Homo sapiens: one gene and its partner. The protein of the gene in region 2 interacts with the protein of the main gene of each other region in a pairwise test. Each region holds a gene or a part of one and is shown on either strand. Other genes may lie near its edges. The genes, in order: FILIP1L and SMTN.

The links.
Region 1: the proteins of SMTN (region 2) and FILIP1L interact in binary tests that used the Homo sapiens proteins (3 or more experiments, as listed by UniProt).

The regions. Positions count from the first base shown.
Region 1 is NC_000003.12:99,932,809-99,936,729, reverse strand, and holds part of FILIP1L (filamin A-interacting protein 1-like), read left to right. Parts: intron 1-3,921.
Region 2 is NC_000022.11:31,079,022-31,082,942, reverse strand, and holds the start of SMTN (smoothelin), read right to left. Parts: upstream 1,626-3,921; 5' UTR 1,487-1,625; intron 84-1,486; exon of another isoform or gene 28-83; coding exon of another isoform or gene 1-27. UniProt on the Homo sapiens protein: Structural protein of the cytoskeleton.

The DNA of each region.
Region 1 (3,921 bases), on a different chromosome or scaffold from region 2:
CTCTGCCACTTTTTAGCAGTGTGACCTTTGGCAAGTGATTTAAAAAGGCTTCAAGCGGGCTGGGCGCAGGTGGCTCATGCCTGTAATCCCTGCATTTTGGGAGGCCGAGGCAGGCAGATCACAAGGTCAAGATCAAGACCATCCTGGCCAACACTGTGAAATTCCACCTCTAGTAAAAATACAAAAATTAGCTGGGTGTGGTGGTGCGCGCCTGTAGTCCCAGCTACTTGGGAGGCTGAGGCAGGAGAATTGCTTGAACCCAGGAGGTGGAGGTTGCAGTGAGCCGAGATCGTGCCACTGCACTCTAGCCTGGGCGACAGTGTGAGATGCTGTCACAAAAAAAAAAAAAAAAAAAAAAAAGGCTTCAAGCTTCAGTTCCTTCCTCTGCAAAATAAATGAGTTAATCAAAGGAAGGCATTTAGAATGGGCTTGTATATGATAAGTAATGAATACATGTTAGCTACCATTATTACTATTATTTTCTTTCTCTAAATTGGAGTAGTTTTGCTTGGCTACCTCGATACCATATTAAATGACCAAGACCAAAAATGATTTCTTTTTTGAGGCTTTTCACTTACTTGATACAAGCAAAAATATCCTCTAGTCACATCCACAATTCTAAAACAAAAATGAGTAAGAAAATGAAGACTAAAAAGTATGTCTAAGTAGCACCTAACTATGTAGAGTAATTTTTAATATACAACATTAATAAAGAATGATTTTTAAAATTTAAATTTTATAATAAGTAATTGGCTGAGGGGCTGCTGGAGGAAGGTAATGAGTAGAATAGACTTCTATTTACATTTGGCCATTTCCTGCAAATAAATTAAGTAAATAATTACAAACTCTCTTCTAGTCCTCTTGCATGGACACATCCTTACCAAGATACACCATGATTTCAACTAACTTAAGCCCAAGTAAAACTGACTAAAGGAACTACATAGGAAAACAAAGCAGGATCTACTTCTCACTGCCAACTGCACTGTATTTGTATCCATAGATACAAGACAACAGAGAGTCCCAGAATTCTAAAGCGGGAAATCCCGGGACTTCAAAGATCATCCAGTCTCAGGTCCTAACCCTGCTATCACGGGATCCATCAGGGGGTGAGGAACAGGGTAGAGGTCAAAGGAAACAATCCTTGGTCCTTGTTCCAGCCTGAGTGATCTCATGGGACAACCTATCCCAGTATTCTCATTTTATAAGCAACAACACAGACCCTGGCTAATTAAAGGCAGAGCTGGGATCAGAGGCTGGGTTTCCTGATTCCCAGCCTACACTCCTGAAGGTTATCGTTCTAGGGTTATGACAGTCACAGATAACAACACATTAGGCTGTGTTAAACTGACAACTAAGCAGGTTTTTTTCCCTTGTAAACTCACTAGGTACTAGGTCAGCACTTCATGAAGAGTAAAGTATCATTATTTGGCATACACAAAAAGCAACTTTCCTTTTTTTTTTTTTGGTACCCTGAAAATCCCAAACCACTGTTGCTATTACAAAATTTTTCTTTACCCTAGTATGCACCCCTGGGCCAAGCACAGATGCATTAAAAATTTGCCAAGAGAAACAATGAAGTCACTGATAATACAAAGCATGAGAGTATCATGAAATTCATGTCTTTGTTTTCTTCCTCTAGATACTTAATTATTTCTCATTACTGATCATTTTGTGGTTATTGGCAGAGGGGCAAGGAAACTCCACCACTGTAAACATGTAGAGACACATGCTCCTCAGTAGACCAGAAGTCTGCATATGATGGGTCTGTTCACAAATCCAATGTGAACACCACTTCATTAATCAGTGAGAATGTTGATGCTACTATCCCCAGCCTCCAAAGAGAATTGGTGGTCTCAGTAAAACTCTAATCTCTTTAGAAGAATAACAAACACAGTATAAAAATGTTTCAGGTCATTCCTTTTTTTACCACTTATGAATATCATCACTGGCAAATGATCTATGTTCTCCTACCAGATTTCATCTAACCCACTTTAAGAGTGAGGTGAGGAAGCTAGAATGTATACAGAGCTCCATTCAGTCTTCTGTTGCAGCTCAGGGCTGCCTTAAGCTAAAAGGGCACTACTTATGAACAATGTTTAGCAAATTACCCTGCTAAATAAAAGCTTACATTATCTTGGTATTCTGGAAGGGATATCCTAGATTAAGTTGATGAGGGCAGAGAAATTCTCATTGATTAGCAGCAGGATACAAGTTGATTCTTATCAGTAGACTATTGTTCCACACAGGACTATGTGGGCAAGAGGAAAACATAGGAATTCATCATGTAAAATGAAAAAAACAAAAACCAAACCCTATGTACTTCCAGGAAATGAAAAGAAGTAAAGAACCAAATATATTTCGCTCCTCTTTTAAACTAGACTTTTATTAGATTTTCACAGAAATCTGAATCTGTGGGTGTGGTGAACTTTTTCAAAGATGGCTGCAGTTAATTCCTTCCATTCCTTTGCAATGTGGCCTTGTATCTTCTTCCATGTAGAGGTGTAATCTATTTCCTCAATCTTGAATCTGGGCTGACATTGTGACATTCTTTCACAAATGAGATGTTGGGAGCTTCAACTCTCACGTTCTTGGAATGTTATCCTGAGACCACCATGTGGGGAAGCCTGGTCTAGCTTCTTGTAAGTTGAGAGTCACATACAGCTGAGATGAGATGACCCGGCTGAGGCTCTCCTAGTCCAACTAACCAACAGCCAAATACGTGAGAGCCCGTCTTAGACCATCCAGGCCCAGAATAGCTGTAAGAAAGCTGAAGCTGTGGAGTAACCCACAGAATTCTGAGCCATTGTTATTTAGCCTCCATCCAAGTTTTGGGGTTGTTTGTTAAACACTAACATGTACCTGAGACAGTTGGGCACAAAGTAAAAGGAGCAAGCCAGTCACCCTAATGCATGCCCATTATGTATGGAGCACCAGGTCAGATACGCCATGTGAGACATGAATGAAGAATAAAATTGTCTTAAAAATATAAGACAAAGGACATAGATGGCCCTATAATTAATCTGTGAACATACCTATAAATAAAGCAGAATGTAATATTTACCTATATTAAATATATTTATGTAACAACCTTCCATTATTTCTATAGCCCAGAGTAAGGATATTCCTAGGTGTTCAAGAAAATACAATAGGGGTGGGGAAAGATAATTAGAAATCCTGTTTATGTATAATTTTTCATTTTTGTCTTTTTTGAATGTTTTTTATAAAGCACATAATATACTGTGGTAGTACATGAATATTTTTATAAATAAATAGATATACACACAATGAGGTTTTTCCCAATCTCATCTCTTACACATCCCCAACCTCCCATTCCTACACAAAAATATCCCTTCTATGCCTTTGCTTTTCTCAAATAAATGAGCCTTTCCCTGGCTACCTAGGGAAGAGCCAGTGACAACTACTGTCACACATCATTGTTCATCTATACCGTATTTGTAAATAGTCTCTTCAGTAAGGCTATAGGCATTTTTCGGACAAGGTATTTGTACCAGTGTATATATGCATTTGTCTTAGGCAATACAGCATAATGACATTACGGCATGATTTTTAAGAGTGTGGGTCCCTGAGCCAGGTTTCCTAGACTCAAATCCCAGTTTTGCCACTTATTAGCTGTGCAACCTTCAATAAGTTTCCCGTGCTTCCATTTGTTCACTGTAAAATGGAGATAATAATATTCCCTACCTCATAGTGTTGTTGTGAGACTTGAATGAGCTAATACATGGAAAATGCTGAGAAGAATGCTTAGCACACATAGTAAGTGCTCCCTCACTTCCAGATCAGGTCATTGGACCTGAAGAGGGTGAATGTCCTTTTTGTTTTGAGACAGAGTCTTACTCTGTCACCCAGGCTGGAGTGCCGGGCGCGATCTTGGCTCAATGCAACCTCGGCCTCCTGTGTTGA
Region 2 (3,921 bases):
GTGGCCTGGGATGGACTCTCATCCTGTCTAAACCTCAAAACAGGGAGGGCAGGGACCTGGATTGAGAAGCCAGGGCCTGGCAAGACCCACCCAAGCTGTGCTTACCACCAGGGGGTGCACTCCAGTCTCCAGTTTCCTGCCCCACCCACCCATCCACAGGGCCTACCCAGCCCCCACCCACTCCGCAGGCTCAGCTTCTGGCTGTGGGCTGAACCCGTAGTTCTTGCTGCCACCACCACTGTCATTCCCCCAGGTATAGGAAGGTACACTGTGTCTTCCGATTCTTGGAGCCAGCTCTGCTGTCCAGACCTCCTGAAGCCAGGTGTCCAGGCACCCAGCACCTCCTGCCAATTCATACAGAATTCAATTCCCCACCTGGAAGGGCTTTCAGAAGCTGACCTGCCCAACCCCTGGATTTCAGGCAAACTGAGAAGATTGGAGAGGGCCAAGGATTTGTCACTGAGCAAGGAGGAAGCCAAAGACTTAGAGGGCAGAGAAGGATGTAATCAAAATCTTCGTCATCTCCGGCTTCCGAAGCTCCCTTCCAAAGTGCCCTCAAGGGCCTGGAACACTCTCAGTGACAGAGGCAAGAGCCCCATCTTGCCCCAGTGCTGCCCATCAAAATGGACCCCTAAATCCTGGCCCAGCCTCCCAGCGCAGATCTCTCCTTCCTCCTGTAGCCCCAACTAATGTCTGTCTGGAATTTGAGGGGCCCTGGTCTGGCACACTGTGGATGCTTAGTTAATGTATGGTGACTGACTAATGTGTGGCCCCAGGCCTGCCCCCCACCTCCTGTTGATTCATCTTTCAATCATCCCTTCCCTCTCTTCAGAACAGTCACTTGGGAAGTCACCCCATACGGTGCATGGGTGGGGGGTGAGGGTTACCGCTCCACACAGTTGGGGTGTGTGGGTCCCAGCCTGTTCAAGTCACTGCTTGTTCCCCCTCCCATCCTGGTAGGCTCAGAGGTGTCAACCTCCCAATCTCTGCCTGTTAGGATCCTTGCCTCTTACCTAGTTACTCTGTCTGGGTTAAACCTCTTCAAGACTGTCCAGTGGTCACCAGCCTTAGGTTCTGCGGACATTCTGATTCCCCCCATGTCTGTTCTTCTATGGGGCAGCTGACCCTAATGCCTAATCTAGGACACCCATGGGATTATAAGAAGATCCCTGCCGCTGCTCTTCTCCAATCTCCCTGTCACACAGTCTGGGGTCGCCGGACATTGTGAGGGGCCTCAGGATTCTGTGGCAGCTTCCCCAGGGTTTCTGCCGCCACAGACTAGCGCCCCTGTGGGGCGTGGAGTCTCTTAGGAATCCGGGGGCGTCTTCCCCCAACAGTCTCATAACTTTATCCCATGGCTTAGACCTCTCGTATGGGTGGGGGCTCCCAGGTCTGGACGTTCCAGAACTCCTGTCTAGACATCCGGGTTCCACCCCCGGACACGTTGGGGCAGCACCAGGATCCCCCCCGAGGTCCGCACACCCACCTCTCAGTCCAGCCCACCCGTCCGGCGCAGGCTCGGCTTAGCTCTTTCGGGACCCGACAGACGGATTAGACACGCGCAGGCCGGAGGTGCCGCGACCCGCTGTCCCAGGCCCGCTCAGCAACCGTCCCCTGGATTCTGCGGAGAGCTGCCCGTCCAGCCGCGCCAGCAGCCCGGCTGGCCCCGCCCTGCCCCGACGCGCCAGCCAACCCTCGATTGGGTACCTCCCACTCTCGTGCCCCATTGGGAAAATTCAATTTGACGGCCACGCCCCGAGAGGAAGGCCCCGCCCCTCGCGGGCCAGGGAGGTCGGAAATTGGGAGTCTTGGGGTCGTCTGCCTCGGTGGCTTTAGCGAGTCGGGTGGGCATCGGCAGGGGGACGCAGGCTCTGCGCCAAGTCGGGGGGGGCGCCCCGAGCCGAGGTAAGTTTCCTGGGGTCGTAGGAGTCTCAGAGCCTTCAGGACAGCCCCTCTCCGCCCTCCTCTTTGTTCCTGAGACCACGTCCCCTCCCTCGACTCCACCCCTTTCTCGCGTCAGTGTTTAAGCTTGGCCGCCGTCCCTAGGCTGCTTTCGGGACACCTGGTCTGAGCCACCTCAGAGCAGGGACTGAGTGACTGGCAGCACCTTGACCCTGTGTTGGAGTGCCGGGACCATCTCAGGTGGAGCAGAATCAATCACACAGCACGCCTCCCCCAGCCCACACACCTTTGAACAGACATTGCCTTCTTGTAGCATGCTTCTACCTTCCAAGCCCTGAGAGTCTGCCTTTAGGAGCGCTGGAGTCCTAAATAGGGAATATGGAGTCCAGGCTGTCATTCAGCAAAAGGGGGAAATTGAGGCCCAGAGAGAGCTGACATGTCCAAGACCAAACAAGGAATCAGCCAGGGTACCCAGGAGGTCAGATCCACAAGGCAAAGCTATTCCATCTTCAGTGCCAGAGGCCCTAAAGCCGCCCTTGGGTCTCCATGGAGACTAAAGTGGGTGGAGTTGGGAGGATGGGGTCTGGAGTCCTGTCAAATAAAAACAATAACAAATCATTTATTTTGTACTTGCCATGTACCAGGCATATAATGCCCATAACAAGCACATGAGACCATGACTATTGCCCCATTTTACAGATGAGGACAACAGCTGATAAGTAGTAAAGCTGTGATTCATACCCAGCACCTTCTGAGTCCAGACCCTGCTTTTAACCACTATAATGTGGGATTCTGGGGAGGTGGTTTCAGCCTGTTAACCCAGAAGAGCCCCGGTTCAGGTCCTCTGTGACACCCCCCAGCCCCCATCTAAGGAAAGGCCCAGTCTCCACACTGAGAGTCTTTTCCATGTGTCATTTCATTTCATCCCCACACCCCTGAGAAGTGGTCCCATTTTACACATCAGAAAACCAAGGCACGGGCCAGGTGCGGTGGCTCATGCCTGTAATCCCAGCACTTTGGGATGCCAAGGCAGGTGGATCACCCAAGGTCAGGAGTTCGAGACCAGCCTGGCCAACACGGCAAAAACCCCGTCTCTACTAAAAATACAAAAATTAGTCGGGCAAGTGGCATGCACCTGTAATCCCAGCTACTTGGGAGGCTGAGGCAGTAGAATCACTTGAACCTGGAGGCAGAGGTTGCAGTGAGCCGAGATTGTGCCACTGCACTCCAGCCTAAGCGACAGAGCAAGATTCTGTCTCAAAAAAAGAAAAAAGAAAATCAAGGCACAGAAGAAAGCGACTTGTCAATGCTACACAGCAGGAGAGGCAAACAGAGCTCACTTCGGAGGACATATTTCAAGGTCCTAGGCTTTCTCTACCTGGGCGAGATGCCATGTTATTATCCAGAACGAGGGTCAGGCGCCCTCTAAGACCAATTCTGAATACTTCAAAATTCACGCGTCCCTTGGGACCTCCCCTTCATGCAGGGCACACCTAGGCCACCTCTGATTTTCAGGGCCTGCCTGAATGGCGGTCACCAGCTCCAATGAATGGCCTGCTTTGTGCTAATGCCCTCCTTTCTCCCTGCCCTACTGTAGGCTAGGAGGAATGGTACAGGTGAGTTCCTCCATGCTTGGATTTACTGTCTGGCACATGCGCTCACTAGCCCTTGGCCCTATGGAAGGGATGTGTGGGTCCTGCCCCTTCAAGCCCTTAGTGCCTGGGTCCACCTCCAGACATACCCGCCTGCCTCTGTCTTCCTCTCTGCAAGGGAGTGGGGGTGATCTAGAGATCAAAGGGCAGTCCGGTACAGTGCTAGGGAAGTTTACAGCTACAGCCGAGGAAAGAGTAAACATCCCGTGACGAGGGCCCCAGCATTTGCTGAACACCTGTTGCATGTCAGACGTGGGGCTCCCACTACTGCCAGGTGACCACTGTGCAAGATAGGTACACTCTGATTCGACAGAGGAAGCTGAAGCTCAGGGAGGTGAAGGCACCTTGGCCTAGTAAAGGCATTCAG